Linked DNA regions of Homo sapiens: region 2 is linked to region 1. The links come from fine-mapping of genetic effects on gene expression. A gene starts in region 1. The other region holds a variant in brackets. All regions are shown on one strand. Distances are from middle to middle. Region 1 holds the start of JPH3 (junctophilin 3). Region 2 has its middle 64 kb from the start of KLHDC4.

What was found. PIP is the estimated chance that this variant, and not a neighbour inherited with it, causes the effect.
Region 2: its variant is the best candidate, but not a certain one, in a credible set for the expression of JPH3 in pancreatic islets (PISA, PIP 0.60).

What each region holds. Positions count from the first base shown.
Region 1 is chr16:87,600,891-87,603,783 of GRCh38, forward strand. It overlaps JPH3 (junctophilin 3), which reads left to right and starts at 1,618. Exons shown (of 5, transcript NM_020655.4): 1 at 1,618-2,638. The coding sequence starts at 2,257. It overlaps LOC124903750 (a long non-coding RNA gene), which reads right to left and starts at 1,293. Exons shown (of 2, transcript XR_007065172.1): 1 at 1,122-1,293; 2 at 1-215. RefSeq lists an enhancer at 157-719.
Region 2 is chr16:87,700,456-87,703,348 of GRCh38, forward strand. It overlaps a transcript of KLHDC4 not described here. Among named protein-coding and RNA genes, the nearest start is that of KLHDC4, 64 kb to the right of the region's middle. RefSeq lists enhancers at 1,256-1,305, 2,036-2,285, 2,321-2,893 and a silencer at 1,856-1,915. The variant G/A (reference allele first, on the strand shown) is at 1,466.

The DNA of each region.
Region 1 (2,893 bases):
CATACCCATTTAGATGAACAAAGTAAAATAAATGGAAAGAAAATCAGAAGTTTGAGGACACCAGTGCTGGCCAGGAAATAGAGAACCACAAACCCAGGCACACTGAAGGGTGAGAGGTCAGTTGCTCCAGGTGTTTGGAAAGCAATTTGGCAGCTTCCAATAAAGTCCAAGACGTAGCTGGTCCAATGATGCCACCGCAGACATTTAGAGAACTTCTGTAGAGGGGCACAGGGAGACAGCGCTAGAAAGCTCAATGAATCACTGTAACTGCACAAAACAAAACAAAGCCGACCGCCCTAAATGTTCCTCATTGACAGTGGGTGTATGAGGAGGTGACTGTCCTCCTGGCTGCTGGTACTCTGGGGAGGGAGCTTTGGTGCCCAAGGCAAGAGACTGAGGTTGAACTCTGGGACTCCCAGGAGGGGCTGATTTTTCTGAGAGCCCCGTGAGCCAAGAGTGGGGACCATCCTGATTCTCTCGGACAGGGGAAGATCTGAGCAGGGCTCCTGGCTGATTGGAGGCTCCGAATCGCACCTCTTCTCCTGTCCTAATCTCAGGCTCCAGGCCTGGCTTGCAGTTTCTGGCTCACCGCGCTGCGGTCACCGGCCCACACTCCCAGGAGCGAGGACCCTGGGCAGCCTCCACACCCCCATCAGCCCACTGCACCGGTCTGCTGCCATTTCCCGCACGCATTTCAGGAGGGCTGGGGACGCCGGCTTCTGCCTGAGGATTTATGGTCCAGGAAATGCATTTTAAATGGATCCCAGGATGCTCGGATCCAAGAATCAGACTCTCTCTTGTGCGTGGGAAGAGGGGCGGAGGGTGAGAGTATGTCTGGAGAGAGACCTAGAAACGCCCGAATGGCGGTCCCACTTTGCTCCCCAAAAGCGCGACCGTTCCCCGAGTGGGGGGGCGCTACCTGTTGGCCAGGGCGCAGGGCGCACGGAATTCGGGTGACTTTGCTCCAAGATACACGCGTGTGTCCCGACTCTCACTCAATTTATAGGGGAGAGGGACTCGCCAAATCCCTGTTTTCTGGGGTAAGCCCCCCTCCCCCCACTCTTGGACCCAAGCTGCCCGGAAGGAAGAAGGAAGCATTGTTTGTCACCGGAGAAAACCACCTGTGGTTTGCAAAGGGCCTCAGTCGAGTCAGGGGCAGGCGGGGCAGATCCGAGCCCGGCGGGAGGGGCGAGGCGCGGGGGCGGGCAGGGGCGAGGGTAGGGGCGCTCAGCTGGCAGGTCCTGCTCTGCAGGCCTCACCGCCCAGCTCCCGGGAGGGGGCCGAGGGCGCCCTGAGTGCTGCGCGCCTTCCCATGACGCAGTTCCTGTGCCTTTAAATCCCACTCCCGGAGGGGGCGGGGGCGCCCCGGCTGGACCCCGGTTTCCAGTCCGGCGGGGGCCCCGGGGAAGCCCAGGGCGGGGAGCGCGGGGCTGGGGGCGCGGAGGGCGGGGCGCCCGGGGTCCCCGCCCGCGCGCCGCGCCCTAGCCTGCTGGGCCGCGCCCCTCTTGGGACCGCCGCGCTCCGGGGGCGGGGGCGGGGGCGGGGGCGGGGGGCGGGGGGCGGGGGGCGGGCGGGGGCGCGCGGGCGGGCGGGGTGCGGGCGCGCGCCGCGCGGCCCGAGCGCGCGAGCCGGGCCCGGAGCGCACGCCGCCGCCGCCACCGCCGCCGCCGCCGCCCGAGCCGCCGCATTGCTGCTGCTGCTGCCGCCGCCGCCCCGCGCCCGGCCCGCGGCCCCCAATATGGTGCAGCCGCCAGCGCCGCCGCCCGTGCCGCCGCCGCCGCCCGCGGGCCCCGCCGCCGCCCTCGGGCGCCCGCAGCGCGGCAGCCGCAGGTGGGGGGCCGCGGCCCGGGCCTGAGCTGCCCCCCGCCCGGCCTCGGCGCGGCGCCCTCCCCGCGGGGCTGCCGGCGAGGGGCCCTCTCGCCGCTGAGGTGGAGCCGCGGGCCCCGCCGCCGCCGCTCCTGCCCCCTCCCTCCCTCCTCCCCTCCCCCTCCCCTCCGGTCCTGTCTCCAGCGGGAGCGCGAGACGCTGGTCAGGCTCCGCGGCGCAGCTCGAAAAGGAATAATCGCCCCCGATTGACTGAAATTCCTCCGGAGCCGGCGCCGCGGCCGCCCGCGCCCGAGACCGCGCTCCGGGGCCGCGTCCTCCTCTCCTCCGGAAAACGCTCGCGACCCAGGGCCGCCGGCGGCCGCGACTCTGCTGTGTCGATCGCCTGAGTCCGTTTTCACCGTTTGCGGGATCTGGAACCGAGTTACATGCATGTCCAGTGGGGGCAGGTTTAATTTTGACGACGGAGGGTCCTACTGTGGAGGCTGGGAGGACGGCAAGGCGCACGGCCATGGCGTCTGCACCGGCCCCAAGGGCCAAGGCGAATACACCGGCTCGTGGAGCCACGGCTTCGAGGTGCTGGGCGTCTACACCTGGCCCAGCGGCAACACGTACCAGGGCACCTGGGCGCAGGGCAAGCGCCACGGCATCGGCCTGGAGAGCAAGGGGAAGTGGGTGTACAAGGGCGAGTGGACGCACGGATTCAAGGGGCGCTACGGGGTGCGGGAGTGCGCGGGCAACGGGGCCAAATACGAAGGGACCTGGAGCAACGGGCTGCAGGACGGCTACGGGACCGAGACCTACTCGGACGGAGGTAGGTGCCGCGGGCCGGGCCGGGCCGGGGCGGGAGGGACGTGCTTCCGATCGCGCCCCTTCTGTGGATCTCTGGGGAAGTTGAGCTGCGTCCTCCGGTTGGGCCGTGGGCACCAGGGGCCTTTCCCGGGCTTCCCTGGAAGCCACGGCGGCTCCTGGCTACAGGTTGCCCCGCTGCCTGGTGGGGACAGTGCCCCTGTGCCAGCTGAAGGGTGTTGGGGGCTTTCCAGGGGCAGAGCCAGGCGGGGCCCAGCAG
Region 2 (2,893 bases), 100 kb after region 1:
AAGGCGGAGGGAGGAGGGCAGGGGGTAGAGGGAGGAGGGCAGAGGGTGGAGGGAGGAGGGAGGAAAGAGGGTGGAGGGAGGAGGGCAGAAGAAGAGGGCAGAGGGAAGAGGGTAGAAGGAAGAGGGTGGAGGGAGGAGAGAAGAGGTGGAGGGAGGAAACAGGGTGGAGGGAGGAGGGAGAACGCTGGAGGGCAGAGGGAGGAGGGCAGAGGGCGGAGGGAGGAGGTTGGAGGGCGGAGGGAGGAGGTTGGAGGGCGGAGGGAGGAGGTTGGAGGGCGGAGGGGAGGAGGATGCAGGGCAGAGGGAGGAGATTGGAGGGCGGAGGGAGGAGGTTGGAGGGCAGAGGGGAGGAGGTTGCAGGGCAGAGGGAGGAGGTTGGAGGGCGGAGGGAGGAGGTTGGAGGGTGGAGGGAGGAGGTTGGAGGGCGGAGGGAGGAAGCTGGAGGGCGGAAGGAGTCAGTCAACTCAGGCACCTGGTTGGCTTCTCTCGCGCCCAGGCCGCGTGTCAGGTGAGGCAGTCGGTACGCAGAAACTGAGGAAGCGACTGTCCCCAGGTGCCAAGGAGGTTGCTGGCTCAGCCTTCAAAACAAGCAAGGAAGAGTGCAGCTGCATTTGTTGAAAAAAAGCCAGGCTGTATTTTCACCATGTGCCCCCTGCCTTGAAAATGAACTACGGAATGCACAGCGCGTGGGGGGTGGGTGCTGGAAAGGGACAGAACAAGGGTCCGTGGCAACCACAAAGCACCTGCAGGCCAGCGCTTCCCGATGAGCAGAGGCGGGGGCTGGCACCTGGCGCTGGCTGCAGACGGGAAGTCAACGCCACCAAAGCAGAGGACCTCAGCCACCCAGGTTAGCAAGAGGGTAGCAGGGCGCTCAGGAACAGGTGAAGCCATACTGTGGAGAGAAGCTGAATGCTCCTCCCAAGCTTCAGCCCACCCATTAGGAACAAATGCTCTTTAAGTCTGTTTCTTCATGAAACCCAAAGTGGAAGTGCCTGAGCTGTGAATGCGGCCACAGCGTTCATGCCAGCTTGTTCCCAAGCCTAGGAGAAGCAAGCAGCCCCGTGACGGGCACAGGCCACAGTGTGGGCGTGAGCTCACCCCATGTGTAGCCGGGTGCTGGGCCCAGGCCGCTGGGTTTCTGGGGTCGGCAGAGTGGGCCAGGCAACAACCTCACATGCCTACCTCACTGCCACTCGTCCGCCTCGTCCACTCCTGGCATTTGGGATAAACATCCTGTCTCAGACACACCCTTCTCGTGCGCCCATGCCACCTGCTCAGGCCTATGCCGCCCGCCCGTCCTCCCAAGCGTGCACACCCGTCCGCCATCCTTCTCCCGTCTGTGCCCCATGGGACAGAGGCCTCCAGCTGCACCACCACTGCTCGTTAACAGCTGCCATCCACACCGAGGAAGCCTCTTCGAGCCCAGGGAGTGGAGGATGGGGCTCTGCTGTGCACGTGCTCCCTC[G/A]GGCCCTCCCAGCAGTGGTAGATGGGGCTCTGCTCTGTCCTTCTTGGTCATCTTCCTGGGCCTGCAACAAAGCTCAGCCCAGCAGCCAGGCAGCTCCTTACAGAGGCTAACGCCGGGTCTGGTCCCTGGTGACCCCAGGCTGCTGTGAGAACTTGTGACCCCCGAGATCAGAACAGCCTTCGGGTCCCAGAGCTTCCCGCATGATCGTGTGTGGAACAGACCGGGAGATTCCAGCAGATATGGGTTCAACGTTGACCACCAACCTTGACAACCCAAGGGCTGCCTCCCCTGACCATGACAGCCAACTCCTCCTCCACAGTGGCTCTGCCAGGCGCCGAGTCCATAAAGGGCAGCCACTGTTTGGCAAGGAGGGCCGGTCTGCCGGGGGCTCCCAGGCCCTGGGGTCAGGCTGAGAGAGGAAGATGGGTGTGAGGGTGCAGGGGCAGGGGGGCGGGCCCTGCAGGGCAGTGCCTGGCCCGTCCTGCACCCCCAGCCTGGGAACCCCCGGCTTTCTCGCTTGGGCCTCTGGGGAGCCCGCGTCCCCAAATGTAGCCACATCAGAGCACACTTCTCCGGCAGCAACTTCCCAGGCATGTCCGTGGCCTCCTCGGGGGCAGGCGCCCCCTCCTGGACGCTGAGCTGACCTCTCTAGCAGGACTCTGCTCATCTGCACCATTTGCCATTTCCACAGAAACCCTGTCCCCAGAGCCCGGCGGAGAAAAAAACCACAGGGGCCTCTCTGCTCAGGGGAGCCACGCGGAAGAGGCACCCTCGCTCCAGCTGCCAAAGCAACTGAGCCTGCTGCAAACATCTCTGTGAACTCGGACAGGAAACAGTGTTAACCTGTGTTTCCTTCCAAGTCGGCCCTGGCGCATGTGAACTGCTTGCTAATACTGTGTACAATCACGCCGTGCAATGACAGAGAGAACTTTTCTTATTGATGAAGTGGTTTAAAAAGTTACCCTGAGCCTTTTTTCTTTGCTTTTAAGCTGGAAAGATAGCTTGATTACTTATGAAATGAAAAAAAGTTTTCCTAAATGAATGTAACAGTTTAAATCATACTGTTACGAAAACAACACTGTCAAGATTAAAAAGAAATTCTGCTCCTTTTAGTAATAAACAATGTCGTGTGACACTTTGGAACGCTTCTCTCGTTACAAACCAGCGTCTTTACTGAAGGTCCTTCCGCTGCAGAGCTGCGCAATGGATGTGTGGACAGAGCTAGTCGGCACGTGGAGGCTCTCCTGGTTTTCGAGCAGGAAACGTGCTGTGAGCAGGAATCGCGAGTGAGTTCCATGGCGTCCCCGGGTCAGCGCGCGTGCAGGAATCGCGAGTGAGTTCCATGGCGTCCCCGGGTCAGCGCGCGTGGGGTCCTGTCTCGCTGGCTCACCACTGGTGGCCAGGGCATGTCTCCCCCAGCCCTGAGTC